Homo sapiens: one gene and its partners. The protein of the gene in region 4 interacts with the protein of the main gene of each other region in a biochemical or structural test. Each region holds a gene or a part of one and is shown on either strand. Other genes may lie near its edges.

The links.
Region 1: the proteins of MAP2K7 (region 4) and MAPK8IP2 form a complex in vitro, tested with the Homo sapiens proteins (2 studies listed by BioGRID).
Region 2: of the proteins of MAP2K7 (region 4) and MAP3K11, one has a biochemical effect on the other in vitro, tested with the Homo sapiens proteins (2 studies listed by BioGRID).
Region 3: the proteins of MAP2K7 (region 4) and GADD45B form a complex in vitro, tested with the Homo sapiens proteins (2 studies listed by BioGRID and IntAct).

What each region holds. Positions count from the first base shown.
Region 1 is NC_000022.11:50,596,393-50,603,802, forward strand, and holds the start of MAPK8IP2 (C-Jun-amino-terminal kinase-interacting protein 2), read left to right. Parts: upstream 1-4,400; 5' UTR 4,401-4,426; coding exon 4,427-4,491; intron 4,492-5,396; coding exon 5,397-5,502; intron 5,503-6,830; coding exon 6,831-7,106; intron 7,107-7,233; coding exon 7,234-7,327; intron 7,328-7,410. UniProt on the Homo sapiens protein: The JNK-interacting protein (JIP) group of scaffold proteins selectively mediates JNK signaling by aggregating specific components of the MAPK cascade to form a functional JNK signaling module.
Region 2 is NC_000011.10:65,611,206-65,619,048, reverse strand, and holds the start of MAP3K11 (mitogen-activated protein kinase kinase kinase 11), read left to right. Parts: upstream 1-4,827; 5' UTR 4,828-5,292; coding exon 5,293-6,031; intron 6,032-7,843. Other genes in the region: PCNX3 (pecanex-like protein 3), read right to left, coding at 1-1,109, 1,343-1,438, 1,540-1,579, 1,700-1,799, 2,038-2,225, 2,585-2,737. UniProt on the Homo sapiens protein: Activates the JUN N-terminal pathway. Required for serum-stimulated cell proliferation and for mitogen and cytokine activation of MAPK14 (p38), MAPK3 (ERK) and MAPK8 (JNK1) through phosphorylation and activation of MAP2K4/MKK4 and MAP2K7/MKK7.
Region 3 is NC_000019.10:2,471,296-2,478,761, forward strand, and holds GADD45B (growth arrest and DNA damage-inducible protein GADD45 beta), read left to right. Parts: upstream 1-4,831; 5' UTR 4,832-5,063; coding exon 5,064-5,107; intron 5,108-5,233; coding exon 5,234-5,335; intron 5,336-5,733; coding exon 5,734-5,956; intron 5,957-6,192; coding exon 6,193-6,306; 3' UTR 6,307-6,962; downstream 6,963-7,466.
Region 4 is NC_000019.10:7,899,916-7,906,878, forward strand, and holds the start of MAP2K7 (dual specificity mitogen-activated protein kinase kinase 7), read left to right. Parts: upstream 1-3,961; 5' UTR 3,962-4,029; coding exon 4,030-4,153; intron 4,154-5,892; coding exon of another isoform or gene 5,893-5,940; intron 5,941-6,963. Other genes in the region: volume-regulated anion channel subunit LRRC8E, read left to right, coding at 1-998. UniProt on the Homo sapiens protein: Dual specificity protein kinase which acts as an essential component of the MAP kinase signal transduction pathway. Essential component of the stress-activated protein kinase/c-Jun N-terminal kinase (SAP/JNK) signaling pathway.

The DNA of each region.
Region 1 (7,410 bases), on a different chromosome or scaffold from region 4:
GTCTCTACAAAAAATAAAAACATTAGCCAGGTGTGGTGGCACACATCTATAGTCCAACTACTCTGAGGAATGAAGTGGGAGAATTGCTTGAACCTAGGAGGCAGAGGTTACAGTGAGCTGAGATTGCACCACTACATTCCTGCCTGGGTGACAGAGCAAGACCCTGTCTCAAAAAAAAAAAAAAGTGGGTATTGTAGTAATGCAGCAAGAGACCAAGAAAAGTAGGAGGTAGTGATCAGAGACCTGGCTGCATAAAAATGAAGATTCGGGAAATGGTGGCGTTAGGACTTCACCATGGTGAAGGTAGAACTCTTAATTTTCATCTTTATTAAATGTGTCTGTTTGCAGTTTTAACCATTGGCATATTTATTTTGTGTTTGTGATTTCTGTGAAATATGAGTACAATAAATACTGATAGTTTGCATTTGTTTTCTAATCTCTCAGAAAGTTGTCAGAAAATGTTCTCTGACTTTTTAGAATTGCTGTGGTCAGGACTGTGGAAGCTGTTGCGATTCCAACTCTCCCTTCTAAGTCCAATCAATTTTGTGCTTTGTAATGTCTATGCCATTCGTGCACCATAGAGGGAAGAAAGCGTTAAAATGGTCGCGTCACAACATCTTGATTTGTCATTGAAGGAGAAGGAGTCTGGAAGGACGCTGACAACGGGTGGTGGTCAGGAAGGAAAACCCAGTGCCTGTGGCCCAGAGGCTGGAGGAGGAACTTCAAGGAGGGATGTTCAGCTCCCTGTGGACCCCCATTTGTTCATCCATACAATGATGCTCTGAGGAGCACACAAGGAAGGTGCAAATTTGATAAAATGTGCATGATGTAAGGAGCATAAACCCCCTCAGGAAAGAGTTGCTGCCTTTTCACTAATGTATCCCTGAGCTGCACAGAGCAGCCCTGGGGGACTGGGAGGACATGTCCCCGGTGTGAGGAGCAGGGGAAAGGTGAGCCTTAAATGATCACCAACAAACAACAGGGCCTGTGTCTGGGGCTTACACCACGACATGTGGTCCTCGCAGCACCATTGCTCAGAGGAAGAAACCAAGATCTCGAGGAACTGAGTAATTTGCCCACGTTCAACAAGTTGGTGCAAAATGAAGAGTGGCTCCCGTATTTCAGACTTTAAGGCCGACGATCTTCCATCTGTGCTCTGGGGGCAAGATGGGAGGTCCACAGATAAAATTGCGGGCGGTATCCCCCATCTCATGGTCTTTACGCTCATGGGACCTGGGAGTGACCATCTTTTAAGAGGGAGGGAAGGAAGGGGAGAGGCTTGAGGAAGGTTTTGGGGATTAGGATCTAAGATGAAATTTGAGACTATAAGACTTCAGATTGGATGCTGTGGCTCATGCCTGTCATCTCAGCACTCTGGGAGGCCATCACCTGGGCTTGGGCCCAGGAGTTTAAGACCAACCTGGGTAACATAGTGAGACCCTGTTTTTACAAAAACAAACAAAATGCCAGGTATGGTAGTGTGCACCTGTGGTCCTAGCTACTCAGAAGGCTGAGGCAGGGGGATTCCTTGAGCCCAGGAGTTTGAGGCTACAGTGAGCTAGGGACACACCACTGCACTCCAGCCTGGGTGACAGAGTGAGACCCTGTCTCAAAAAAAAAAAAAAAAAAAAAGATTTTAAGCTTGCTGCAATTCCAGATGAAGGTAGATCCTGGAGGCACTTTGTGGGAGAGGTCACTACACTTGAGTATTAAAGACTGTTGACAGATCAGAAATCAAGGAACTGACTGACCAGGGTATTGGATGGGTCATTTATGTGGATGTCCAGATGAACCAGTTTGGTGAAAAGACTCAGGATCAAAAGCCAATCTGGAAAGTTGAGGTCAAACTCTCTGTGAAATCTGGGAAGGGATCTGGATTTTTTGGGAAAGGCAGGGAGTGGTTAATAGGCCCAGACTCCCTCAGAAATGGGGAATGTTCTTAGTGCTTCTAAAAGGGAAAAGACTGTTATGGCAAAGACCTGATGCCCCAGACTGGGTTAGAGACCATAAGCTCTCTCATTCATTCATTCACATGTCTGCTAAGCACCTACTGTTTGCCAGGCACCATGCTTGGAGCCTAGGGCTTCACAGAGAGATGACAGCCTCTCTTCTCTCCAGCCAACCCAAGTCAAGAAGGCAAGCATAAACTAGTAAATGGCTTTTTTTTTTTTTTTGAGATGGGATCTCACTCTGCCCCCCAGGTTGGATGCAGTGGTGTGATCTCAGCTCACTGCAACCTTTGCCTCCTGGGCTCGGCCAATTTTTTTTATTTTTGGTAGAGACATGTTTCCAGGCTGGTTTCAAACTCTTGAGCTCAAGTGACGCACCCACCTTGGCCTCCCAAAGTACTGGGATTACAGGTGTAAGTCACTGTGCCCAGCCAAGTAAATGCCATTCTTAGAAAAATACTGTAATTGGCATAAAATATAAATTGTGATGGGACACCAAAGAGTGCAGGTTCAATCAGGCCCTGGCCACAGGCCTCTCTCTGAGCTGGAATGGTGATACCCCCCTTCCCGACTTGCATGAGCTCCTTCTGCCATGTCGTTTCTGGTGTTTGTCACTCAAGTGCCTTGTCCTTTCCTAAGGAATAATTTTCCAGGCCAGGGGCGGTGGCTCACGCCTGTAATCCCAGCACTTTGGGAGGCCAAGGAGGGCAGATCACCTGAGGTCAGGAGTTTGGGACCAGCCTGGCCAACATGGCAAAAACCCATCTCTACTAAAAACACAAAAATTAGCCGGACATGGTGGTGATTGCCTGTAATCCCAGCTACTCGGGAGGCTGAGGCACGAGAATCGGTTGAACCCGGGAGGTGGAGGTTACAGTGAGCTGAGATCGTGCCACTACACTCCAGCCTGGGCAACAGAGCAAGTTCTGTCTCAAAAAAAAAAAAAAAAAAAAAAAAAAAAAAAAAAAAAAGAATTTTCCGCAGAACTAAGACATAAAGAAATCTTAGGGCACATAACTTTCATCAAGGGGGAAAAGGGATTGCGCTTTTGTTGAAATGCCAGCCTCCTTCTTTAGCCAATATTTAGCCAGGTGCTGTGGTTCACACCTGTAATCCCAGCACTTTGGGAGGCTGAGGCCAGAGGATAGCTGAGCCCAGGAGTTTGAGACCAACCTGGGCAATACAGAGAGAGCCGGTCTCTCTCTCTCTCTTTTTTTTTTTTTGAGACGGAGTCTTGCTCTTGCCAGGCTGGAGTGCAGTGGCGCAATCTCGTCTCACTGCAACCTCCGCTTCCCGGGTTCAAATGATTCTCCTGGCTCAGCCTCCCAAGTCGCCGGGACTACAGGCGCCCGCCACCACGCCCGGCTAATTTTTTTGTATTTTTAGTAAAGACGGGGTTTCACCATGTTGGCCAGGATGGTCTCTGGTCTCGATCTCTTGACGTCGTGATCCACCCGCCTTGGCCTCTCAAAGTGGTGGGATTGCAGGCGTGAGCCACCGCGCCCAGCCACCGGTCTCTATTTTAGAAAGAAAAAAAGTGTCCTGCAGTCTCTCCCTAGTTCTGCGCCCTCAACCCTGATCTCCCGCCTCCTCCCACAGCCACCGTCTCGAGCTCAGCTTCAACCATGGCCCTCCCCACAGGGCTCCATCCCAAGCCAGAGCGGGTCAGTTCCCTACACAGGGCCCAGCAACACGGTGCCCAAGAAAAAGTGTTTCCAGTGGGACGCATGTCGCCTCCGTGGGTGCTAACTTCTCCCAGTGCCCGTCGGTACGTCCGTCCGGCTGTGCAGTCTCTACTGAGTGCTCAAAGTCCACTTTTAGCCCCAGCCAGCATCCTCTGAGTACCTTGTGCTCGATTCTGAATCCAGCCCTGCTCGGCGACCCTCGTGCAGACGTCCCCGTGCAGCCCCGGTCAGCACCCCGTGGGGACAGCTCCGATCAGCACCCGACGGCGGACAGCTCCTCCCGCGCCTCCCGCCTCGCCCGCCACCCCGCTCCGGGCCGCACCCGGGTTAGGGTTCCTGGGGGGATCCTGGGCGCGGCGGCGCAGCTCCCGGGGCCGCCCCGGCCTCTCGCCCAGAGGAAACAGCCCACGGCGAACCCGAGGCCCGCGGACCCCGGCGCTGCCTCCTCGGCCTCCCGCCCCGCGCGGGTCCTCCAGGGCGGGGCCCGACGCCCACCCGCCCGCCCCTTCCCTCCCGCCCCTCCCCGGGAAAAATCCTCATCGCACGCCCGGCCCTTCCCCAACCAGCGCCCGGCAGTGAAGCCGCCGCCTCTCCTCCAACCAGCGTCCCCGGCCGCGTCCCTCCCCCGCCTCCCCCGCCGCCCTCCCCGCGCCGCCGCGGAGTCCGGGCGAGGTGCGCGGGGCGGACGCCGCAGGGCGTGTCACGAGGTGAGCGGGGCGGGCCGAGCGCCGGCGCGGGGCGCGGCGAGGCTCCCGCACCCCCCGCCGCAGTCGCGGGCCTCTCCCGGAGAAGATGGCGGATCGCGCGGAGATGTTTTCTCTCTCCACCTTCCACTCGCTGTCGCCGCCGGGCTGCAGGTACCCCCCTCGGCGCCCGGGCCGGGCGGACCCTCCGCTCCCTGCGCACCCCCCCGACCCCGACCCGGCCCGGACCCCCGTCCCCGCCGCCCCAGCCCCGCCGCCGGCGCGGACCCGGCCCCGGCCCCCTGCGGTCCCTGAGCCTCGGCTCGGGCGCCCCACCCCCACCCCGCTCCCACTCCCTCCATCTTCACCGCGCGTCCCCAGCCTCAGTGACCCCCGGGCCCCGCCGGGATTCTGAGCCGCGCCCGGCCTGGACGGCTGACCTGTCAAGGGTGGAGGCCCTGGGCCGACCCTCTGCGGGGGAGGATGCGGGCGGGATGCGGGCACACCCTCCCGGCGCGGCGTGTCCCGGTGGCCTTGGCCTCTTTCAGTGGACGCCAGACCTGGCCGATAGGGCCCGGCCGGGAGAGAGTGGAAATCAAGCCCGGAGCCCTGCGGGAAGGGACTGGGGTTGGGAGGACGCTGGGCCTCTGGGTTTAGGCCTCACTCCGCCGGAGAGGGGGAGACAAACAGGCCAGACTCTCTTCCCAGAGCAGGAGCGACCCCTCCCCATCTGCCGCTGCCGCGTTGCAGCTCCCCCTCCCCTGCTCTGCAAGACCCTGACCCCAGGGGCCTGGAGCTGCGAGTGGAGGGAGGAGAGGCTGCTGGCTCTCCAGGGAGGCGGGGTGGGAGGGGTGGGGGCAGGGTTGGCTCCTCCGGGCAGGCCTGGCTCAGATGGGGGAGGGGATCCACAGGCGAGCAGAGCTTGGGGGTCAAGATGATGGCAGGATGTGTTCCGAGAGCTGGGGGCTGTGGAAACCACTGGGTGTAGGAGCTGACGCCTCCCTCTGCCCCTCCTCAGGGCCAGTTGCCAGGCAGGGAGTCCAGGGTTGGTGGCTCTCTGACCCTGGTCTCCTTTCCAGGCCTCCCCAGGACATAAGCCTGGAAGAATTTGACGACGAAGATCTGTCTGAGATCACTGATGACTGTGGCCTGGGCCTCAGCTACGACTCAGACCACTGTGAGAAGGTGGGAGAAGAGTTGGGGACACAGATCCAGCTCAAGGGAGGGCCTCATTAGGTTCTTCTTAGCGTTCACTTGGGGTTTTAGGGTGGGTGTGAGCTCAGCCTTGAACCGGGGACTCCTCTGATGGCTCCTCCCCACTTAACCCTTGAGGTTTCCTTGGTATCAACTCTCTCTTATTCCAACACATTGCAGGCCTCCACGCAGGGCCTTCCCCAGCATTCTCCCCGACCCCATCGGTGGCCAGCCCGGGGCAGGGAGGTGCTCCTTTGCTTTGGGTGCCCTCTGTCCTCAGATCACTCCCAGAAAGATCTAATCCCTGGCAGCTGCCATCACAACCTTGTCCCCTCTGCAGCCCTGTGCCCTCGTCTGCAGCTCCCATCTGTCTGTTTCATGTCTCCCCCTGCTGAAATCTTTTCTCGTCCATCTCTTGCTTCTCCTCCTCCCTGTCTCTCCACATTTCTGCTTTCATTTATTGAAGAACATTTCTGAGCAACTGCCATGTGGCAAGTACTGGGGGCTTCTGGGTGCTGGGAGTGGAACAGGACAGCTGCTCTCTGGAGCTGCAACTTAGTAGGGGAGAAAGACTTGTAAGGGACAATGGCTGCCCACGTGTCAAGGGCTGCATTCCAACAGGGACATAAGTTCCACGAGGGGGAAGGGAACCCAATCCACACTGAAGGAATCAGGGAGAATTTCCAGAGGAAATGTCAACCATGCCCTGAGGTTAGCAGAGCCAGGCAGATGGGGTAGGTAGGAGGGAATGGAGGAGAGGAAGTGCCAGCATGGGGAATAACTGTGCCAATGGCCCTGGGGTTGGCGCAAAGTTGGTGAATCCTCAGAGTGCAGAGGCTGTCTCTCCATTTCTGCATCTGTTTGATGTTTACTGAACATCCGCTGAGCCCCAGGTCTTGTTCTTGGGGGCGGGTGCAACAGTGCATAACATGGACATGACCCTGCCCTGGTGGGGCTTGCAACAGACCAAAAACCATGTCCAGTAACTGTAAGTTGTGTTAAAACGCTGCGAAGGGAACACAGTGCTGGTGTCAAATGTGATGGGGTTCTGCAGTTAGATGAGTCTGAAAGTGGGGCTGGGGCTGCTCTGAGAATCCCTGTCATTCAGCTGTAGAGTTTAGGCCCTTCCCAAGAACTGGAGTGATCCCAATGTGTGTTAGGCAGATTTTGAAAACATCGCCCTGTAGACAGAGGGGCAGAGTGAGCTGGAAGGGGCTCTCCTTTGACTGATGCTCCCCGATTTCCCTTCTCCTAGCACCTGGGCCCCTGGGCTACTGCTGCCCTCTGGCCCAGCCCTGCTATCTCCCTCCGTCCTGCAGGACAGCCTCTCCCTGGGGCGCTCGGAGCAGCCGCACCCCATCTGCTCCTTCCAGGATGACTTCCAGGAGTTTGAGATGATCGATGACAATGAAGAGGAGGACGATGAGGACGAGGAAGAGGAGGAGGAGGAGGAGGAGGGAGATGGGGAAGGCCAGGAGGGAGGAGACCCTGGCTCAGAGGCACCTGCCCCCGGGCCCCTTATCCCCTCCCCTTCCGTGGAGGAGCCCCACAAGCACCGGCCCACCACCCTCCGTCTGACCACACTGGGGGCCCAGGTGAGTGCCCGGACCCACAGCTCCCTGGAGCTGAGCCTGGGTTCATAGCACCTGGGCTGCAGCCAGCCCTGCTCACCCCCTGGGAGCTGGCCCTCCTCAGGACCGCCGTCATGTATCTCCACCCCAGGACTCCCTAAACAACAACGGAGGCTTTGACCTGGTGCGTCCGGCCTCCTGGCAGGAGACAGCGCTATGCTCACCCGCCCCGGAGGCCCTCAGAGGTGAGGGGTGGTGGGCCCGCGGGGCGCGGGGAAGCGGGGGAGGAGGGCAGGGAGGATGGACTGGCTGCTGGAAGAGGCCTGGG
Region 2 (7,843 bases), on a different chromosome or scaffold from region 4:
CTCCTGCAGCTCCCCCCGCCAGCCGGGCTGGTTGGCAGCGGGTCCCCTTCGCGCCTCAGCAGGCAGCACAACAGGCTCACTAGCAGCCTGCTCCACCCCAACCTGGGCCTCCAGCTCTGCCTTGCAGCCAGCCAGTGGGGGCCTCAGAACATCACCCCCAGCCCCATCCATGCTCAGCACACGGGCATGTGTTTTAGCGCTGGCGGTACTAGGCGTCCGCTGGGTCCCATATGGCCGCTTGGGGGGCACAGCAGTTCCCTCCTCAGCCCCATGGGGGGCCCTCCGCTTCCGGGGTCCCCCTGCTGCACCCCGGGAGCTCTCAGGGGAGTAGCAGGAAGTAGAAGAGGAGCTGTCAGTACTGTAGCGGCGCTGCGATCGGAGACTGGAGGCCGGGCTCAGTTCACTGCCCTCACTAGTGTCTTCATCCTCAAAGAAGCCCCCACCTTCAAGCAGGGGCCGTCGAGGGGCACGGCCAGGTGGAGAGTGTCTTCGCAGGGGTGGCTGCCGTTTGCTAGGCCGTAGCAGGGCCAAGTCCTTGGGCCGCACGACCAGGAGCGGCTCAGCCAGGCCCGGTGGCGTCCCTGCTCCAATGACCGTGTCAAAGGAACGCAGCGTGTCATCTGAGGGGACCCCGGCGTCTGGTGAGGCAGGCAGCTCAGCCTCAGAGGGTGGGTCTGTGTCGCTGCCCTCAGGGGCTGGCCCCCCTGGGGGGCTGTCCAGATGGGTGGAGTTGGTCTTCTCACTCTTGAAGCTGCTCAATGTCTCCCTGTCAGTGCCGCTGAAGCAGGAGTCTGAGGAGCCGGCTTTCTGGGGCGTGGGCTCCCCTGAGCCCCGCCGGTCAAGGGGCTGATAGCCACCTGCCCCCCTGCGTTGTTCCCGTCGACTGCTGGTCCTCACCAGGGCCCGGTCAGGCTGGGTCAGGGTCAGGAAGCTCTTGCTCAGCTCCTGGCTGAGGCTCCCCTTCAGCAGGGGGCTCATGGGAGTGTCAGCCATGCTGCTCCCACTCCAGGGCGCTCCATCTCCAGCCAGGGGAGAAGGCTCTGAAGAGTCTGTACTGGCAAGAGAGGGGTCTGGGACAGCCCCTGGAGGCGTCTGGGGAAGGTCTCCAACTGCCAAAATAAAGGGAAACAGAAAATGAAAAAAGGGTTTTCTGCAAAACAAACTAGTGGTTAAGGGAGGTCTTATGCCCTGTACTTTCCCTGAGAGCCCAGCCACAGCAGCACACTGGGGAGGTCCCACAGAGGAATACAGAGGAGACCCAGGATGGAGCCAAAGTTGAGGGGATTCAACAACGAAACAGCTGGTCTAGCCCACAAGCCTCGGCCCCATAAGGCCCACGCACTCAGTTTCTCCTGCGAGCTGAGCTTCAGCATCTCTCGGTCGGCAGAAGTCACGATCACATTGTTGCTGCCCTGCTCCCGCACCAGCTCCTTGATGTCTGCAACCATGGCCCCAGAGGTGTCAGCAGGACCCCCTGGCACAGCACGCCAGCCCCTGTTCCACAGCACTATGCTCCAACCCTGAAGAGCAGCCACCTACCTCTAAGGGGCCCAGAGTCCTCCATTCGGGGCAGCAGCTCCTGAGTAGACAGAGAGCCATGAAGGAACAAACAAGGCAAGAAGTAGGCTCAGGATGCACCCACAGTAGGGACTGGCTCGCAGAGGGACAGGAGGACAAGCTGAGGTCCAGGCCCACTCACCGAGACCTGGTTGAAGCCAAACACAGAGTGCTGGGAGCTGCAGCGCACCGGGGGTGTGGAACTGACTTTCCGGAACACTGTCATCTCCACTCCGGGGTCCCTGGCGGTGAAAAAGAGCAGCAGCTTTGAGCTAACCTCTCCTCTGTGTATGCTACTTCCTCCCATCTTTGTCACTGCTTCTTTTTCAGAAGTCACTTTACAATTCCAGGGCTAACACAGGACAAGTGTTCACAATCACTCAGAGAGCCAATGTTCCCTAAGCCCCTACTCCACCCTGCAAGGTTCCGGCCCAGGCACCAAAAACCCTCAATCCCCAGCACAGCCCCTACCCCACCCACCTGGGTGGATTGCTGTCCCCCTGGGCAGGCTCTTCCTCCAGCTCCCCCATGGTAGAGCTGCGCTTCTCCACGATCTCGCCCTGGTCAAACATGGCATGAAGCCGATAATTGACAGTCTTGATAGTAGCAAAGATGACAGCCACCACGAGGCAGTACACGCCGGCCACCATCAAGCTGGGAGGCAGGACCTGAAGATGAAAGTAAGCCAGGTCCCTTTTCACAAAGCCTCGCCCCCACAGGATGTACCTGCCATCAACATCATAGCTGGGATTCACAGACTCACAAGAAAATTTCATCACCTCTCCACACAACCAGTACACAGACCTCGACAAAGGGCTCTGTATTCTGCTTAGCTGGATGAGATTAAGTGTAGGGTTCAAGGTCACTCGATCCAAGAAAGGAAGACTTTGGCCCCTCTTCCACACAGACCCAAACTCTGCAGTGATTCCTCTCTCTCCACGTCCCAGAGCCCAGGGCACTGCCCTGAATCCCTGCCAGGCTGCCCTCCCTCTCCCGGCTGGAGTTACAGGTGGCCGTGGCGTCTCACCATGTACAGTAAGAAGGGAAAGATGAGCAGGAAGATCCAGACATAGAGGTGGAAGCAGTTGGAGAAGGTGCTCTGGTGCGGGTCGAAGAACCAACCGCCGGTGAGCGAGGCCCACACCCCCTGGCGCAGGATCTGCAACACCTGCGACCCCATGGCCCCGCCGCTGCTGCCCGCGCCCCCCCTCCCGGGACCCTCATGGGGGCGGCCCCCGGCCCATGCCCCGTCTGGCGCCTGAGGGCCCCGGGGCCCGGCCTCACGCTCACGCCATGGCCTCCCCCAGCGGGGGAGGGGGGCTCGGCCGCGCGAGGGTGCGAGCAGGGGGCGGGGCCGGCCGGGACAGTCAGTGGTGCAAGGCCCGGACGCGGGGGTGGGGCTGCATCAGGGGCGGGGTCCGGGTCCCCACTCCTGGCCCAGAATTGCTCCGAGGGGCCGAGCCGGCAGGCAGGCGCGGGGCACGGGCCGGGTACCCGTCGGCGGCATCCAGAGGTGGTCGTGGGGTGGGTGCTCCCGGGGTGCAGGCGACAGCTCCCTAGTCTCCGGACCAGGGAGAACCCCAGGATCTGGGGTCCACTTTCGGGGTCGCAGGTCACTTGCTTGGGGCTCCGCGCTCGCCCGGCTTCTGCTGGTGCCGGCCTAAGGAGGAGGCCGGAAGAAGGAGCCGCGAACCGCCAGCCTGCAGTGGCGCATGCGCCCAACGATTCCAATTGGGACCCGGAAAAGGAAAACTTGACGGCATGAATGCGCAAGCGCAGAAAGGTGATGGCGCGGTAGGACGCGAGGGGTGCCCTTTGGGCGTGCGCAGACTCCAGGACTAAAGCAAGTTCGAGCGTAAAAGCGTTTGGGCGCATGCGTAGACCCAGGCGTTGCCAACCCAGGGTAGACGACTGGGCGGAACCAAAGAGACAGTTGAGTAGCCATTGGGTAACGGCAAAGTAATTGGCGCACAGCTCTTCCAATGAGTTACAGGAGGCGGGGAAAAGGTGGAGGCGTGGACTCCCCTAGTAGCAGCGAGAGTTCTGCACTACCGAAGCACGCCCCTCTCGGCCCGCCCCCTTTAATGCTGGACCTCGTACGTCACGACCGATTTCGCTCCCAGCGGCGTCTACTTCCGGGTCAGAGCTCAGACCTAGGGTGTAGAGAACAACCTTCCGTAACAGGCAGGAATAGTCGAAATAGGATAGCGTCGTCTTTCTTAAAGTGACAGGCTCAAAGCAATTGGGGCAGCCCTATCCAGAAGTTGTGAGGGCGACTCAGCTATTCTGAATCCAATCCTGGGCAAAGTTCTGGACAAGTCTCAGGTTTCTGCCAATGGGGAAGGGATATGAAGAAGCGGATTGTTTCCCAGGTGAGGAGAAGAAGAGAGCCTTAGGCAATCCACTCCAAGAGCTTGAGGTGCAGCCAGTTCCGTCTGTCCTCCAGTCTTCCCCACCCCATCCAACTAGCTCTACGAGGCAGAGCTTTCTCGTCCTCATATCATATATGAAAAGAATGGCCGGGCGCGGTGGCTCACGCCTGTAATCCCAACACTTTGGGAGGCCGAGGCGGGAGGATCACGAGGTCAGGGGTTTGAGACCAGCATGGCCAACATGGTGAAACCCGTCTCCACTAAAAATACAAAAATTAGCCGGCCGTGGTGCCACGCGCCGGTAGTCCCAGCTACTCGGGAGGCTGAGGCAGGAGAATCTCTTGAACCCGGGAGGCGGAGGTTGCAGTGAGCTTAGACTGCGCCATTGCATACCAGCCTGGGCGACAGAGCAAGACTCCGTCTCAAAAGAAGAAAAAAGAAAGAAAATAATGAGGCTCAGAATCGATGGATCGCACAGTCCCACAACTTCGCAGCCAAGACCAGACTCGGGTTCACCCCCTTCCCAAGTGTGGTTCTGTAACCCCGTTTTGCTGCCGCCGATGCGGATGCAGAGGGCAGAGATGGCCCATCCTTAGCAGAGACCAACCTCCACCCTAGGCAGCAGAGCACGCAGCTGGGGGCTTTTCTTTCTAGATCTCAAAAGCCTGCTGTGATGGGGGATCTGGTTCTGCCCTTTCCCTCTCTGCCTCTCCTGGCCCGCCTACCCGGGAACTCCCCGCCTGGAGCCTCTGGGAGGGGAGCGGTGCAGGCCGCCCGCGTCATCTGATGCTGTTTCCTGCAGGAGGGAGAAGAGCGGAAAAAAGTGAAACTCCACCCTCCACCTCTGCCTCCCGCCCCCGGGGCCAAAGTACAAAGGGAGGAGGAAGAAGGGAGCGGGGTCGGAGCCGTCGGGGCCAAAGGAGACGGGGCCAGGAACAGGCAGTCTCGGCCCAACTGCGGACGCTCCCTCCACCCCCTGCGCAAAAAGACCCAACCGGAGTTGAGGCGCTGCCCCTGAAGGCCCCACCTTACACTTGGCGGGGGCCGGAGCCAGGCTCCCAGGACTGCTCCAGAACCGAGGGAAGCTCGGGTCCCTCCAAGCTAGCCATGGTGAGGCGCCGGAGGCCCCGGGGCCCCACCCCCCCGGCCTGACCACACTGCCCTGGGTGCCCTCCTCCAGAAGCCCGAGATGCGGGGGGCCGGGAGACAACACTCCTGGCTCCCCAGAGAGGCGTGGGTCTGGGGCTGAGGGCCAGGGCCCGGATGCCCAGGTTCCGGGACTAGGGCCTTGGCAGCCAGCGGGGGTGGGGACCACGGGCACCCAGAGAAGGTCCTCCACACATCCCAGCGCCGGCTCCCGGCCATGGAGCCCTTGAAGAGCCTCTTCCTCAAGAGCCCTCTAGGGTCATGGAATGGCAGTGGCAGCGGGGGTGGTGGGGGCGGTGGAGGAGGCCGGCCTGAGGGGTCTCCAAAGGCAGCGGGTTATGCCAACCCGGTGTGGACAGCCCTGTTCGACTACGAGCCCAGTGGGCAGGATGAGCTGGCCCTGAGGAAGGGTGACCGTGTGGAGGTGCTGTCCCGGGACGCAGCCATCTCAGGAGACGAGGGCTGGTGGGCGGGCCAGGTGGGTGGCCAGGTGGGCATCTTCCCGTCCAACTATGTGTCTCGGGGTGGCGGCCCGCCCCCCTGCGAGGTGGCCAGCTTCCAGGAGCTGCGGCTGGAGGAGGTGATCGGCATTGGAGGCTTTGGCAAGGTGTACAGGGGCAGCTGGCGAGGTGAGCTGGTGGCTGTGAAGGCAGCTCGCCAGGACCCCGATGAGGACATCAGTGTGACAGCCGAGAGCGTTCGCCAGGAGGCCCGGCTCTTCGCCATGCTGGCACACCCCAACATCATTGCCCTCAAGGCTGTGTGCCTGGAGGAGCCCAACCTGTGCCTGGTGATGGAGTATGCAGCCGGTGGGCCCCTCAGCCGAGCTCTGGCCGGGCGGCGCGTGCCTCCCCATGTGCTGGTCAACTGGGCTGTGCAGATTGCCCGTGGGATGCACTACCTGCACTGCGAGGCCCTGGTGCCCGTCATCCACCGTGATCTCAAGTCCAACAACAGTGAGTTTCTGGGGGCATGGTTGGGGGTGGCATGGCTCTGGTACACACCTGCTCCCAACCTTCCACTGAGCCTAGCTTAGGGTCTACTGCAGGTAGGAGCTCCCACCCTAGGGGGTCCCAGCTGACCAGGGGTGCCCATGGGCTCAAGCTAGCCCCCAAACAGAGCCCCAGGCACCCAGCAGAGTCTTCCTGCGCCAGCTTCAGAAGTCCTTGACCCCAGCCTGCAGCTGCGGTTTGGACAAGTTAAGAAATTGGTATCTCTCAGGTGGGCCATAAGCATCCTGCCCAGCCATGGCTCCCACCTCAAGGAAGTCCTCTGGAAGCTCGTGCTCCTCATCTTCTCCTCCCCTAAATTCATGTTCGTGGAGTTGGTGCTCTGTCCTCCCCTCCCGTCGTCATGGGCAGCTCCTCCAGAACAGATATCTCAGAGAGGGAAGCCCTCCTTGGCAGTCAAGGCTAAGGCCAGGGCTGGAATTCTGGCCTAGCCCTCCCTGGCTTCATGACCTCTAGCTGGTTACTCCAACTCGGAGCCTCAATTTCAGAATCTGTAAAAAGGGAGAGTGAAACAGCTCAACAGCTTGGGCAAGCCCGACCTGCGATCCCCAACCCACAGCGGGTCCTCAGCCATGGAGATGGACATTTGAGGGCTGGATCGCCAAGAGGGCCTAGCCTGAAATCAGTGCTTGGGATGGGAGTGCTGGGCTAAGGGAGACTCCATCTCCCATCATTTCAAGCCCCCGACACGCTGCCCATCATGGCCCAAGAGAAGTGAGTGACAGCTTCAGAGGGTTTCCTGGTGCACGCAGCATTTAGAGAGAGAAGGCATGGAAGCAGGACCCAGCACACAGCAGGGACCAGGAGCAGGGGCCTCCTAGAGCCCAGAGTGCAGGCTGGAGAGCAGCAGTAGGAAATGCAGGAGGGGCCAGGCTCAGTGTGGTCACTGGAAAAGCATGAGACATTCTTAGAGGGGGGTCAACGTGGATATTTTGAGCCTCCTGGCCTGGGCTGACCATGGACAAGGGGCTTGCAGGAAACAGAGTGCTGAGCCCCAGATATCCAAGTTCTTGCCAGGACTGGGGGAGCCAGGAGAGGCCTGCCAACCATCCTACCCACTCTTCTCATCCCTGGTAGGGTGCGGTTCCCACCTCTCAGCCTCAACCCTGGGCTCTAACTATCTAGGGACCCCCGCTACCTGCCCCAATCTGAGGGGGATTCCCCGAAGGCACAGGGGGAGGGGACTCCCATCTTCTGTTTTTCCTCCGTTTTCTTTCCAGAAAAAATGGAACAATAGCCCAGGCCCCTGCTCCCCACCCTCCCCACTGCTTCCTGCGTTTCCTGCTGCCCCTGAGCCGGCTTCCTGTCCCTGCTCCAGCCCCTGCTCCCTCCCTAGCCCAGCTGCCTGCAGGGGAGGAAAGAGCTTGGGGTGGAGGACTTGCGGGAGGAAGGAGCCTGGAACTGCTCCCCTACTCCCCTCTAGTTCCCCTGCTTCCCTCTCAGAGTCTGGGAGGTGGTGGTAAAGGGCAGGCAAGGTGCCCTCAGCCTCCCTGAGCCTGGCATTTAACCTCGGAGACCCCAGTCCTAGGCCCAAGTTGCTGTCTGCAGGATTGGGGTGGGGGGAGTCCCTGGGCTGGTGGGGGGCACAGGCAGGAAACAATGGCATGATTTTCCTGGACAATGGGGGCCTTGTGAGGAAGCCTGGCGGGGAGAGGAGGGGGAATTCTCCAGGCCCACGAGTCACAGGACTGACCAGCCAGCCCGGCCTGGGCCTGACCTCCCCCAGTTCTCCCCAAAAGGACTCCCCCTCCCAAGTGG
Region 3 (7,466 bases), 5.4 Mb from region 4:
CCTGCAGTACGTTTTTTTATTTTTTATTTTTATTTACTTATTTTTTTGAGATGGAGTCTTGCTCTGTCACCCAGGCTGGAGTGCAGTAGCGCGATCTCGGTTCACTGCAAGCTCCACCTCCTGGGTTCACACCATTCTCCTGCCTCAGCCTCCTGAGTAGCTGGCACTACAGGCGCCCGCCACCACGCCCGGCTAATTTTTTGTATTTTTAGTAGAGACAGGGTTTCACTGTGTTAGCTGGGATGGTCTCGATCTCCTGACCTCGTGATCTGCCCACCTCAGCCTCCCAAAGTGCTGGGATTACAGGCGTGAGCCACCACACCCGGCCACATTTTTTTTTTAACTCTGAATGAATGCAAAAACCTCTATGCTGGATAAAATTTTAAAAATTTATTTTGTTTAAAGCCAAATACGGTGACTCACGCCTGTAATTCCAACACTTTGGGAGGCCGAGGCAGGCAGATCATTTGAGGTCAGGAGTTCGAGATCAGCCTGGCCAACATGGCAAAACCCTGTCTCTACTAAAAATACAAAAAATTAGCTAGGTGTGGTGGAGGGCGCCTGTAGTCCTAGCTACTTGAGAAGCTGAGGCAGGAGAGTCACTTGAACCCAGGAGGTGGAGGTTGCAGTGAGCTGAGATTGCGCCACTGCACTCCAGTCTGGGTGACAGAGCGAGATTCTGTCTAAAAAAAAAAAAAAAAAAAAAGATTATGACAGGATTACTCATACTGATTATTCCTCTCACCTCAGGCTCCAAGATGGCCTCGGCGACACTGTTATTGATCTCATTTTTTATTTTATTTTATTTTTAGACACAGGGTCTCCCTCTGTTGCCCAGGCTGGAGTGCAGCGACACAATCATAGCTCACTGCAGCCTCAAACTCCCAGGCTCAAGTGATCCTCCCACCTCAGCCTCTCACGTAGCTGGGACTACAGGTGCGCACCACCACGGTCGGCTAATTTTTAAAATTTTTGTAGAGATGGGGTCTCCCTATGTTGCCCAGGCTGGTCTCAAACTCCTGGGCTCAAGCAATCCTCCTGCCTCGGCCTCCAAAAGTGCTGGGATTACAGAGGTGAGTTCTGGCGCCCAGCCCAAAGATAATAGCACACATTTCCTGAGTGCTTACCTGATTCTGGGAATTTCCTCCTTCAATGCCTGTGATGAAGCCTTTGTGTGACTGTTCCCATCTTACAGAGAAAGAAACTGAGGCTGGAGCTCATTTTCTTTTTTTTTTTTTTTTTGAGAAAGAGTCTCACTCTTGTTGTCCAGGCTGGAGTGCAGTGGCACGATCTCGGCTCATTGCAACCTCCACCTCCCGAGTTCAAGCGATTCTCCTGCCTCAGCCTCCTGAGTAGCTGGGACTACAGGCATGCGCCACCATGCCTGGCTAATTTTTATATTTTTAGTAGAGATGGAGTTTCACCATGCTGGCCAGGCTGGTCTTGAACTCCTGACCTCGGGTGATCCACCCGCCTCGGCCTCCCAACATGCTGGGATTACAGGCATGAGCCACCACGCCTGGCCCGGCTGGAGCTCATTTTCTGAGCTCAAAGGCACAGAGCTCAGAGTCTCTTGAAGATATTCCAAGATACTCCAGATATTCTAAGATGCCTGGAGCCAGGGCTGGAAAAAGGAGGCACAGGTGGGCTTGGGGTCTAGAAAGAGAAGCCTGGAGGGTGGAGGACCATGGGGGTCCAGGCAGTCAGTCTGGGAGAAAACAAGGCCAAGTCAGTGTTGACAGAGGAGTAGGGTTTTCCTGCTGAAGACCAGAGGAAGACAGCATCCCAGGCGGAGGAAACAGCTGACAAAGGCTGGGCCTCTCGCAGAGGAGGTTGTTATGGCTGGCACGGGGGACACACGGAAGAAGGACTTGGACACATATTCTCTGAGGCCCTGCTTTGCTCGCCTTATTTTATTTATTTTATTTGCTTTATTTTTGACACAGTGTCTCGCTCTGTCTCCCAGGCTGGAATGCAGTGGTGCAATCTCGGCTCACTGCAACCTCCACCTCCCGGGTTCAAGCGATTCTCCTGCCTCAGCCTCCCGAGTAGCTGGGATTATAGGCATGTGCCACCATGCCCAGGTAATTTTTGTATTTTTTGTAGAGACGGGGTTTCACCATGTTGGCCAGGTTGGTTTTGAACTCCTGACCCCAGATGATCCACCTGCCTCAGCCTCCCAAAGTGCTGGGATTACAGGCATGAGCCACCGTGCCCAGCCCTTATTTTATTTATTTATTTGAGACGGGGTCTCACTCTGTTGCCCAGGCTGGAATGCAACTGTGCAATCCCGGCTCACTGCAGCCAGGAACCCCTGGGCTCAAGTGATCCTCCTGTCTCAGCCTCCGGAGTAGCTGGGTGCACACAACACACCCCATTCTTTCTTTCTTTTTTTTTTTTTTAAAGACTGAGTCTCACTCTGTCACTCAGGCTGGAGTGCAGTGGCACGATCTCGGCTCACTGCAATCTCGGCTTACTGCAACCTCTGCCTCCCAAGTTCAAGCAATTCTCCTGCCTCAGCCCCCAGAGTAGCTGGGATTACAGGCATGTGCCACCACGCCCGACTGATTTTGTATTTTTAGTAGAGATGGGGTTTCTCCAGGTTGGTCAGGCTGGTCTTGAATTCCCAGCCTCAGGTGATCCTCCTGCCTCAGACTCCCCAAGTGCTGGGATTACAGGAGTGAGCTACCGTGCCCGGCCTTTTTGTTTGTTTGTTTGTTTGTTTGTTTGTTTTGGGGAGGATGGAGTCTCTCTCTGTCACCATGCCATGTGCAGTGGCATGATCTCGGCTCACTGCAACCTCCACCTCCTGGGTTCAAGTGATACTCCTGCCTCAGCCTCCTGAGTAAGCTGGGATTACAGGCGCGTGCCACCACGCCCAGCTAATTTTTGTGTTTTTAGTAGAGACAGGGTTTCACCATGTTGGTCAGGCTGGTCTCGAACTGACCTCACGATCTGCCCGCCTCAGCCTCCTAATGTGCTGGGATTACCCAGCCTGCAATACTTTTTAAAAATCAAAATCAATGCCCAAGTATCCATGAGGAACAAAATATCAAAATTGTAAATAAAGACAGAATCTGACTTTGCACTTATCCCACCCACCTCCCTGATCTTCCTTATCTTCAGCTCATGTTGGCCATGTTGGTCAGGTTGGTCTCGAACTCCTGACCTCAGTTGATCCGCCCGCCTCGGACTCCCAAAGTGCTGGGATTACAGGCGTAAGCCACCGCGCCCGGCCGATTTAACTTTTAAATTGAAATTATAAAATATAAATATGTATGTTGCATGCGTAAAACATTGCATAAAGTTACATAAAACGTTGCAACCGCCACGGTCCCCTTATCCCCCGCCTCCAGCCCAGTGCCCCGCCCGTCCGTCCCTCTCTTCCGGCGCTGAGGGCGCAGAAACTCGGCGCGGCCACCAGATGGCGCCACCGCGCCTCGCAGCCCCGGGACATTTCGTGCCCCAGCGGTGGGCGGCGCGGAGGAGGTGGGATGCGTCAGCCGGACCCGCGGGCCGGGGAGCCGGGCAACTGGGGAAAGTGAGCCGCCGGGCGGAGGCCAGACCCCAGGCTGGCGGGGGAGGGGACTCAGATGTGAGTCACCCGGGAGCCCCCAGTCGACCGTGGGAGACGTTGTCATGCGGGGCCTGCCAGCCTCGCTCCTGAACAGCCTTCCCGGGGCGGCGGAGTCCTGCAGGCGGCCGTGCCTGGCGCACACGCGTGGCTCCAACACGAACTAGCCTATGGCCTCACCAAGCCTCAGTTTCCCCTTTTGCATAATGCACATAAGCATCCCCCCTGCTTCCCAGGTCTTGGATTAAATCATCCATGAATCCGGAGGGGTGGGGGGTACCAGGTCCGCACCACGCACTCAATGCAGGTCAGCGCCCACCCCGGAGTGAGAAATAAAAGTAGCCGTCATCCTTGCACGTGGGCCCTGGGTGGCGGCGTGCAGCCGGAGCCTGCACCATTCCCCTCAACAATGGCTTTCTCCAGGGCCTGGAGGCCTCCGCACGGGCAAAGGCTGGAACGCCAGGCAGCCGGCGGGGGCGGGGCCGCGCCACCTGCACCTCCCACGCGCACCCCACCCTGATACTCGCGGGGTCGGCGAGGAGGCGCCCACTTTCTTCTCCAGAGCGCCCCGGGCTTTGCAACCTCCCACTTTCGGGGCCCTCGAGGAGGCCTCCCGCGACCACCAGGTGACAGCTGATGTGTATTGGGCTCTTACTGTCAGCCGTATTTTATGCCATGCTCTGCAAACCAGCGAGGCCGGCGCTGCAGACCCATTACTCAGACGGGAACAGAGAGGCCGGGAGAAGCGAAATCACCCAGGGGCTGGGGTCGTCGCAGCCAGGAGAGACTCCGGCCCTCACCACCACCTGGGCGAGATCACGCTGCAAACGGGGCCCCTTCCCGGTGCAGCCCCTCCACCCCCAGCAGAACTTGGGAAAGGCGCGGTCCGGGACTCTCCGCGGATCGGGAGGGGATTCCAGGCCCCCCCGAAAGTCCGGGCCGCCTCGCGCGCTGGAAATCCCGCGCGCGCCCCGAACCGCGGCTCGGCTGCCGGGAAATCAGGAGAAAAAAACTTCTGCTTTTTTTTCTTTTCTGGCATTCGCGGTCACCTACCCGGCCCCCGCGCGCCCTCCTCCCGGTTCTCGCCCCCACGTGGGGCGCCCCCGCACGCCGCTCCTCCCCCTCCCCTCCGTCGGCCAACCGCAGAGCTAGCTGCACTCGCCCTTGTCTTTCCACCAATAGGAGGGGCGAATGACTCCACTGAGGCCACGCCCAATGTTCAAGTCTATAAAAGTCGGTGCCGGAGGCTCCCAGCTCAGATCGCCGAAGCGTCGGACTACCGTTGGTTTCCGCAACTTCCTGGATTATCCTCGCCAAGGACTTTGCAATATATTTTTCCGCCTTTTCTGGAAGGATTTCGCTGCTTCCCGAAGGTCTTGGACGAGCGCTCTAGCTCTGTGGGAAGGTTTTGGGCTCTCTGGCTCGGATTTTGCAATTTCTCCCTGGGGACTGCCGTGGAGCCGCATCCACTGTGGATTATAATTGCAACATGACGCTGGAAGAGCTCGTGGCGTGCGACAACGCGGCGCAGAAGTAAGTAGCCGGGGCTGCCGCCGCCTGAGGTCAGCCGGGACGGGATGGGTCGGGTTGGGCCGGGCCGGGAGCGGAACGTAGCACCCGGTGGTCCGCCCGTCACTGATCCCTCTTTCCTGGTCTCAGGATGCAGACGGTGACCGCCGCGGTGGAGGAGCTTTTGGTGGCCGCTCAGCGCCAGGATCGCCTCACAGTGGGGGTGTACGAGTCGGCCAAGTTGATGAATGTGTGAGTCAGACCCCCTTCCCGGGCTGGGCGCGGGTGGGACGGGACCTCCCCTCCGCTCTGGACGCTTTCCGCACGCTTGTCTTGCATGGAGCTGGGACTTCCCCAAGTGCCCCCCGCTGTGGATGCAGAGCTTCTCTGCCGTTTTGTGGATCGGGGGCTGCCGTATCCTGATGTATCGTCTGCAAACACCCCTCCCGCCGTGGGCCTGTCTCCCCCTACCCCATACTTTGAACCGTGTGCCCTCCCCTCCCCCCACCGTCACCAGCTTGCAGAGGCAATCCCCTGCACCCTTGCAGTTTCTCTTTTGCTCTTGCACGCTCCTTTTTTGCAAACTCCCCCTGCACGGTGGCCCCTCCCCTGTCCCCGGCTGACCCATCCCTACCCTTTGGCCCCCTCAGGGACCCAGACAGCGTGGTCCTCTGCCTCTTGGCCATTGACGAGGAGGAGGAGGATGACATCGCCCTGCAAATCCACTTCACGCTCATCCAGTCCTTCTGCTGTGACAACGACATCAACATCGTGCGGGTGTCGGGCATGCAGCGCCTGGCGCAGCTCCTGGGAGAGCCGGCCGAGACCCAGGGCACCACCGAGGCCCGAGACCTGCATTGTCTCCTGGTCACGGTGAGTCGGGCCTCTGCCCTGCCCCGCCACGCCCGGGCACCTGGGCCGGTGTTTGTCAACAAAGTCGGGCTGACTGGTCCTGCACAGCTCAGCGCTCAGCCACGTTTGGCATGTCCCGTGGGCAGCCGGGCTGGGGCCTCCTCACCCAGGAAGCTATTTTGAGCCTGACTGTTTTCCCCACACAGGGGCCCCGGGAGAGGGAGGCTCCACTAAACCCCTTCTTTTCCCTCCTACAGAACCCTCACACGGACGCCTGGAAGAGCCACGGCTTGGTGGAGGTGGCCAGCTACTGCGAAGAAAGCCGGGGCAACAACCAGTGGGTCCCCTACATCTCTCTTCAGGAACGCTGAGGCCCTTCCCAGCAGCAGAATCTGTTGAGTTGCTGCCACAAACAAAAAATACAATAAATATTTGAACCCCCTCCCCCCCAGCACAACCCCCCCAAAACAACCCAACCCACGAGGACCATCGGGGGCAGAGTCGTTGGAGACTGAAGAGGAAGAGGAGGAGGAGAAGGGGAGTGAGCGGCCGCCCCCAGGGCGGAGATCCAGGAGCTGGCGGCCGCCGATCCGATGGAGAAGGGGGGACCCAGGCCAGCAGGAGACAGGACCCCCGAAGCTGAGGCCTTGGGATGGAGCAGAAGCCGGAGTGGCGGGGCACGCTGCCGCCTTCCCCATCACGGAGGGTCCAGACTGTCCACTCGGGGGTGGAGTGAGACTGACTGCAAGCCCCACCCTCCTTGAGACTGGAGCTGGCGTCTGCATACGAGAGACTTGGTTGAACTTGGTTGGTCCTTGTCTGCACCCTCGACAAGACCACACTTTGGGACTTGGGAGCTGGGGCTGAAGTTGCTCTGTACCCATGAACTCCCAGTTTGCGAATTATAGAGACAATCTATTTTGTTACTTGCACTTGTTATTCGAACCACTGAGAGCGAGATGGGAAGCATAGATATCTATATTTTTATTTCTACTATGAGGGCCTTGTAATAAATTTCTAAAGCCTCTGGTTGCTTGTATGTTTTCGGCTTCTAGAACAACTAGGACCCCTGCCCCCTCCCCGGGGACACGCTTCACCCCCCACAACCCCCGCCAGCTCACCAGGAAGTGTTACTTAAGCCCCTGTTAGCAGCTCCAGGCTCCCGTGCAGAAACAGTACCCCTTCTCTCCGCAGCAGGCGCCGCCACCGACTCCAACAAATCTATGCCTCTTTTTTTTTTTCCTTCTCCTCCTACCCTGCAGCAATTAAGAGACCGGTTTATTACGAAACCTGGCCGCCGTGCCACCACTGTTACTGGCTGTGCAGGAGCCAACCCCAAGCTCTGGGCACATATGGAGGCATTTCAGCGGGAGGGGGTGCTGGCTGCAGCCCCTGACCGCCTAGGCGGCCACCGCAGCCCAAGGTCCGGATCGGTCAAGGGGGCACCTGGTACCACACAGCGAGGTGAGCTCAGGGCTTGCAAGGAAGAGCGCTTTTGGAGGCTTCCCCAGGGAGTGCCCCCCCAGCCCAC
Region 4 (6,963 bases):
TCAGCTTGCTCCACTCGCCCGCCAGGCTACCCTTCTCCTTGCAGGTCTTCCTGCGGGACCACCTGAAGGTGATGCGCGTCAAATGCGAGGAGCTCCGCGAGGTGCCGCTTTGGGTGTTTGGGCTGCGGGGCTTGGAGGAGCTGCACCTGGAGGGGCTTTTCCCCCAGGAGCTAGCTCGGGCAGCCACCCTGGAGAGCCTCCGGGAGCTGAAGCAGCTCAAGGTGTTGTCCCTCCGGAGCAACGCCGGGAAGGTGCCAGCCAGTGTGACCGACGTTGCTGGCCACCTGCAGAGGCTCAGCCTGCACAACGATGGGGCCCGTCTGGTTGCCCTGAACAGCCTCAAGAAGCTGGCGGCATTGCGGGAGCTGGAGCTGGTGGCCTGCGGGCTGGAGCGCATCCCCCATGCAGTGTTCAGCCTGGGTGCGCTGCAGGAACTTGACCTCAAGGACAACCACCTGCGCTCCATCGAGGAAATCCTCAGCTTCCAGCACTGCCGGAAGCTGGTCACGCTCAGGCTGTGGCACAACCAGATCGCCTACGTCCCTGAGCACGTGCGGAAGCTCAGGAGCCTGGAGCAGCTCTACCTCAGCTACAACAAGCTGGAGACCCTGCCCTCCCAGCTCGGCCTGTGCTCAGGCCTCCGTCTGCTGGATGTGTCCCACAATGGGCTACACTCCCTGCCACCCGAGGTGGGCCTCCTGCAGAACCTACAGCACCTGGCCCTCTCCTACAATGCCCTGGAGGCCCTGCCCGAAGAGCTCTTCTTCTGCCGCAAGCTGCGGACGTTGCTTCTGGGCGACAACCAGCTGAGCCAGCTCTCGCCCCACGTGGGTGCCCTCAGAGCCCTCAGCCGCCTGGAGCTCAAAGGCAACCGCTTAGAGGCGCTGCCAGAAGAACTTGGCAACTGTGGGGGGCTCAAGAAGGCGGGGCTCCTGGTGGAAGACACGCTTTACCAGGGTCTGCCGGCAGAAGTGCGGGACAAGATGGAGGAGGAATGAAGCTGGGGTGGGGCCGTTTTAGGTAGAGCCTTAAAAATGCTTCTGCCCTGGAATCTCAACCATTGTCTTCCAAGATAGGAAGCCAAGTGGGTCCAGGCCAGGAGATGGGGGGGGCGGGGGCAGCTGTGTCATCTTTCTGGGGCCCAGGAGGATCTGGGCTGGTTTGTCTGGGGAGACAGACAGGATGTTGTGGAGCTGGGGTGGAACCTGGTATGGAGGGATTAACTCAGTCATGGCATTCTCCGACCAAAACCACACCTGTGTCTCTGGCAGGCTGGCTGGCCTTGCTCCCATCCCTAGAACTGCTGCCTCTCCCTGGATATTCCAGCTCAATTAGTGCCACATATGGGGGAAACGACACATCCCAGTGGGATTTCCAACACTCCCCCTCCCCATGCAACAAAGCAACTTACTTCTGGAGTTCTCTCCCAAGGAGAGGACACAGACACAGTTGTTTGCTGTGTTATATGTTAGCTCCGAACAATGGTTCTCATTTGGCTAAGCATCAAAATCACCTAGGGAGTCGGTGCAAAACAAAATATCCCAGTCCCCTCCCCTGAAACACTGACTCAGGAGGTTTGGTTGGGGGCCAGGAGTCTGTTCCTAAATATTCCAGGTAGTTCTGGTGCAGGTAAGTGGCCCTGAGACAGTATGTTGGGAAATGCTGACGTAAAGGTATCAGGGCCGGGCGCTGTGGCTCATGACTATAATCCCAGCTGTTTGAGAGGCCAATGCAGGAGGATGGTTGAGCTCAGGAGTTCGAGATCAGCCTGGGTAACATAGCGAGACCCCACCTCTGCCAAAAAAAAAAAAAATAGGGTATCCAAATATCTAGATTCTGATCCCTTTTGAGGTCCTAGACCCTTTGAGAAACTGATGAAGCCAGGCACCTCCTTCCTCAGGAAAATGCTGGTGTACAAATACACACAAAGCTCTTCAGGCAGCTGATAGATTTCCCCCAGAGAGCTATTCAAGGACTTCCTAAGGTGGGTGGACTGCAGGGTTAGGACACCTGCTATAGAGGTGACATTTTTCCAAGGACAAGCAGGGACTTTGGTCTTGACTGTTCTCTGGGTGCTTAATAAATAATACTAATTATGCAAGTTCTAGTTTTGATCTCTTATGTGCACTCCTGTCATTGTCTAACACCGTCCATTAGGGCCAGACATAGTGGCTCATGCTTGTAATCCCAGCGCTTTGGGAGGCTCAGGTGGGAGGATCGCTTGAGCTCAAGAGCTTGAGACCAAACTGGGCAACATAGTGAGATCTCATCTCTACAAAAACATACAAAAAAAAGTTGGCCAGGTGTGCTGATGTGTGCCTGAGGTCCCAGCTACTAGGCAAGCAGAGGCAGGAGGATTGCTTGAGCCCAGGACCCAGGAGGTTGAGGCTGCAGTGAGCTGTGATCACACCACTCCACTCCAGCCTGAGCAACAGAACAAGACCCTGTTTTTCTTTCTTTTTTTTTTTTTTGAGACGGAGTCTGGCTCTGTCACCCAGGCTGGAGTGCAGTGGCGCAATCTTGGCTCACTGCAACCTCCGCCTCCTGGGTTCAAGCAATTCTCTGCCTCAGCCTCCCAAGTAGCTGGAATTACAGGCGCCTGCCACCATGCCCGGCTAATTTTCGTATTTCTAGTAGACACGGGGTTTCACCATCTTGGCCAGGCTGGTCCTCTCCTGACTTCGTGATCCATCCGCCTCGGCCTCCCAAAGTGCTGGGATTACAGGCGTGAACCACCATGCCCGTAACCTTTTATTTCATGTGACCAAGTAACACCCGTGTGCCAGAATCAAGGATGAGTCTCATGTTCTCAGAGCAGAGGCACAGAAGGCTGCCTGGAAGACGGAAAGGTAAAGACCTCAGCTATAACTCTACACTTGTGTGTGCTCCACCCACAAATCGTCACCAGAGGAGTTCCGACAAGCCGGTAACTCTCATCCCAAAGTGTTCCCTCGTTGGACCAGAAGCTGGAAGGGCACTTGGCAGAGTCTGCCTGGCCCTGGCCACCTCCCGGGTGTCCGCAAAATCAGAACTTCCTTCTCGCATCTAAGAGCAGAGGGAAGCCGCTCTTGGGGGGATCCCTGGGTTCCAGATGGGACATTTCCCCAGCACCCGTCGGACCACTTAAAGGAGTGGTTTAGGCTGCCGGGGGCCCAAGCACTGGCACCTAACCCCAGCGCCCCTCCTCAGATAGGAATTCTCCACGTCCAGGCGCTGGGCTCACGTTCCGGGTGCGAGAGAGATAAGGGGGGTGTCTTGAGGTTCTATGTGGGTCTGGCCAACAACTCTGGCCTTGACCTTGGCCCCGTCGCCGAGGGCAGGGGTCACACCGCTGGGTTCCCATGGCCGTCCCCTCCCCCCTGGCTTCGGCCAACTCTGAGCCTGCTGGGGCTGGCAAGAAGGGAAAGGGCTCTCGACGGAGCCTAATTACGGTGAGGAGGCGGCACCCCGCTGCCAGCAGGAGGCTAGGAGGTAATTAAGCACAAGAGGAATCCTAATAAAGCACCATCAGTGAGGAAGGCATTCCGAAGGGACGCCCAAGCCGACCGTGAAAAGCGAGGAGGCTGAGGCTGCACCGCCGTGGAGACCAGGGATCGACTGCCGCTTTGGGAACGAGGTTCCAGGAATGCGCATGCGCAAAAGCCACGCGGGCGAACACGGCTTCGCCTCGCTAAGCATGCGCGCCGTTTTCCCCGCCCACCGTCCTCAGAAGAATGGTGTTTCCTCGCAGCGCCTCTCTCAGGAGCGATCGGGAATTGGCGCATGCGCACTACGGTGGTGGTGGCGACGAAGGCGGGGGTTGCACGTTGCCTGCCTCGAGCTCTAGGTGGCGTCATCCTTCGGGCTGAGCCGAAGCACGCACGCGCGGAGGTTCGCACGCGGAGAAGGGCGGGTGCGCGCCGCGGGCATGCGCGGTGCGGGGCGAGACGGCGGCTCGACGGGGTCATCCGGGCGCAGGCGCAGTGCGGTGTTTGTCTGCCGGACTGACGGGCGGCCGGGCGGTGCGCGGCGGCGGTGGCGGCGGGGAAGATGGCGGCGTCCTCCCTGGAACAGAAGCTGTCCCGCCTGGAAGCAAAGCTGAAGCAGGAGAACCGGGAGGCCCGGCGGAGGATCGACCTCAACCTGGATATCAGCCCCCAGCGGCCCAGGCCCAGTAAGCACGGCGGCGTGGGGGAGGGGGCGGGCGGGCGGGGCGGGGCGCGCGCCGCGGGAGGCCCCGCCCCCACCACAAGGCCCCGCCCCCGCTTCCGGGGCGCTCGCTCTCCTCTCCGCCCCCCCCGCTGCGGGCTCGCGGGGCGAGGGTCACGGTGACCCGGGGGGCGTGGAGCCGGCGAGCTCCGGGGGGTTCGCACCCTCAGGGCTTGGGAGCCCAGTTCCCGGACCCAGGCGAGGCCCCCAGCTGATGACCCGCCCCCATCGCCGTGATCCTCTGGGTCGGGCTTCCCCGACTCCACGCGACAGTGACCACATCCAGGTCGCCCCGAAAACACAGACACGTCCCTGTTGACCTGATGCTACCACTCTCGTCATCTCAGGGACTGTCTGGCGCCCCCCTCCCCCGGCCTGGGGGCTTGTCAGCCCCGTGCAGCGACGATCTACGCACACGCGCACGCCTGGCTCGGGGACACCTGAGGTTACTTGACCACATAGAGCCCCTCCCCATCTCTTCTGACCCGAGGATTCTCCCTCTCGCTCTCCCTGTGACCGTGTCTGAGGTGGGGGGACGGGAGGGGGTCCCTTCTCCCCCTCTTGGCGACAGTGACCATGGCATTGGGCTCAGCAGACCCCCTCCCACATACACCAGGCCCCGCAAATCCCTGTGACCAGTTTCACTGCCACCATCTTGGTGAGCGTGTGGTGTCTGACCTCCAGAAATGCACATCGACCCCCAGCCAGCCCGGTGACTTTGTCACCTGTGTTCAAGTGATGGCTCCCCTTCCCTTCACACCCACACCCACCTGACCTGGGGACACCTGGGGCCAGTGTGACTCTAGGCCTGCTCCCGCCGCGCCCCAGCATACATCCACCTGCTTTCTGATCAGTCCCACCACCTCGGTACCTACCTCCCTGACACCTTGTCATCCTAGATCAGTACCTCTCGCTTCACACACACCTGGCCTGGGAACACTGACCATATCTAGTCTCCCGGCTTTTTCCCCAAGATCCTGGTCTCTAAATCCTCTGGGCTGGAGGAAATTAGATTTTCAAACCCTGTGAACACCACCCCTGACCCATGATCCTTTTTGTGTCTTTCTTGACCCAGTAAAATTCTCTCTTGTCTCCTCTGATGTGACCTTCGTAGTTTATTTAGTTCTCTCTATGGAGTCATTATGGCAGGCGAGAAAGGTACCCCCGTATCTGGGCACCCCACCCATTCCCTGGTCACCCAGCCTGACCTTCACAGCCTGACACCCTCCTGTCCCTCCCTCTCCTGACCTGAGTCAGCGTGGGTTCCTCCTTGGGGAGTCTCTTGGGGGTCCAGAGAAATCATGGAGGTGGGGATTCTGGTGCAGGACACTGCCTGAGACAAGAAGCCCAGCCAAGACACGGGTCCCTGCTAGCCCCTGGGGGCCGCCCTCCCTGGCCCCTGAGTGGATGAGACAGGGTTGAGTCCAGGATCCCGGGTGCCTTCAGGGGTGGCCGTTCCCATGCAGAGCTAGGAGGCCGGTGGCAGGCAGGCCCCCGAGGAGTCCCCTCCAGGCGTCTCTGTCTGTGTCAACTCCATCCCATCCTCCCCGCCCTCCCCATCTCTGTCGGTTCCTAGCCATCTCTGCAGTTCGGTGCCTCCCCCTCCTCCTCGTTTATGATTTGATTTCTTTTCTTTTGGACGAATCAGTCGTTTCTGTTGTGATTTATCGTGGTGTTGTTTTTTTCTTCCTTTTCCCCATCCAGTTATTGTGATCACTCTAAGCCCTGCTCCTGCCCCGTCCCAACGAGCAGGTACCAGCCTTTTTATCATCGCTGCTTGGACATCTGCACCATTGACCTAACCGCTGCCCCGGCCGCAGAATGGCGTCCCCCAGCCCCCATGCTCTGTGTGTGTCCCCATGTCCCTTCCCCTCACTCTCACTTTCTCTCTCACTCCACTCAAGCAGCGGTCAGCCCAGCCCAGCCTCCTCTGCGTCCTCCCTCCTCCTCCCCCTCCCTTACTCCCAGCTCCACTTTGGACTCCCTGGAGGAGGAGGTGGGCTCCCCCACTGAATGGGAGTCTGTGGCCTCCGGGGGTGGGGGGGGTGCACGCCTGTGTGTGTGTAACTGAGAGAACGAGAAAGTTGGGCCTGGTGGGTGGGTGGCCTGTGCCTATGGATCTCTCTCAACAACTAGGTGAACACATAGCACCCCCCGGGTTCCATACCAGCCCTGGGCGCCAGGGACACAGCAGTGAATAGAACAGATGGAGCCCCTCTCCTCTGTAGCGGGGGGCTGCAATAGGGGGGCCCACTGGACAAGGAGCACATTCCCACCAGAGAGAACATTCTAGCTGGGTGAGCGGCCCTGCAGGGGGCCAGCCTGGGGGAACCTCTGGAGACGGTGGGAATTGAACAAAGCCTCTGGGGAGGCCAGGCACGGTGGCTCACACCTGTGATCCCAACACTCGGGGAGGTTGAGGCTACAGGGAGCCATGATCACACCACTGCACCCCAGCCTGGGTGACAGCGAGATCCTGTCTCAAAAATTTAAAAACTGGGCCAGGCGCAGTGGCTCATGCCTGTAATTTCAGTACTTTGGGAGGCCAAGGAGGGTGGATCACTTGAGGTCAGGAGTTCGAGACCAGCCTGGCCAACATGGTGAAACCCTGTCTGCATTAAAAATACTAGAGATTAGGCCAGGCACAGTGACTCACACCTGTAATTCCAGCACTTTGGGAGACCGAGGCGGGTGGCTCACCTGAGGTCGGGAGTTCGAGACCACCCTGACCAACATAGAGAAACCCCGTCTCCACTAAAAATACAAAATTAGCCG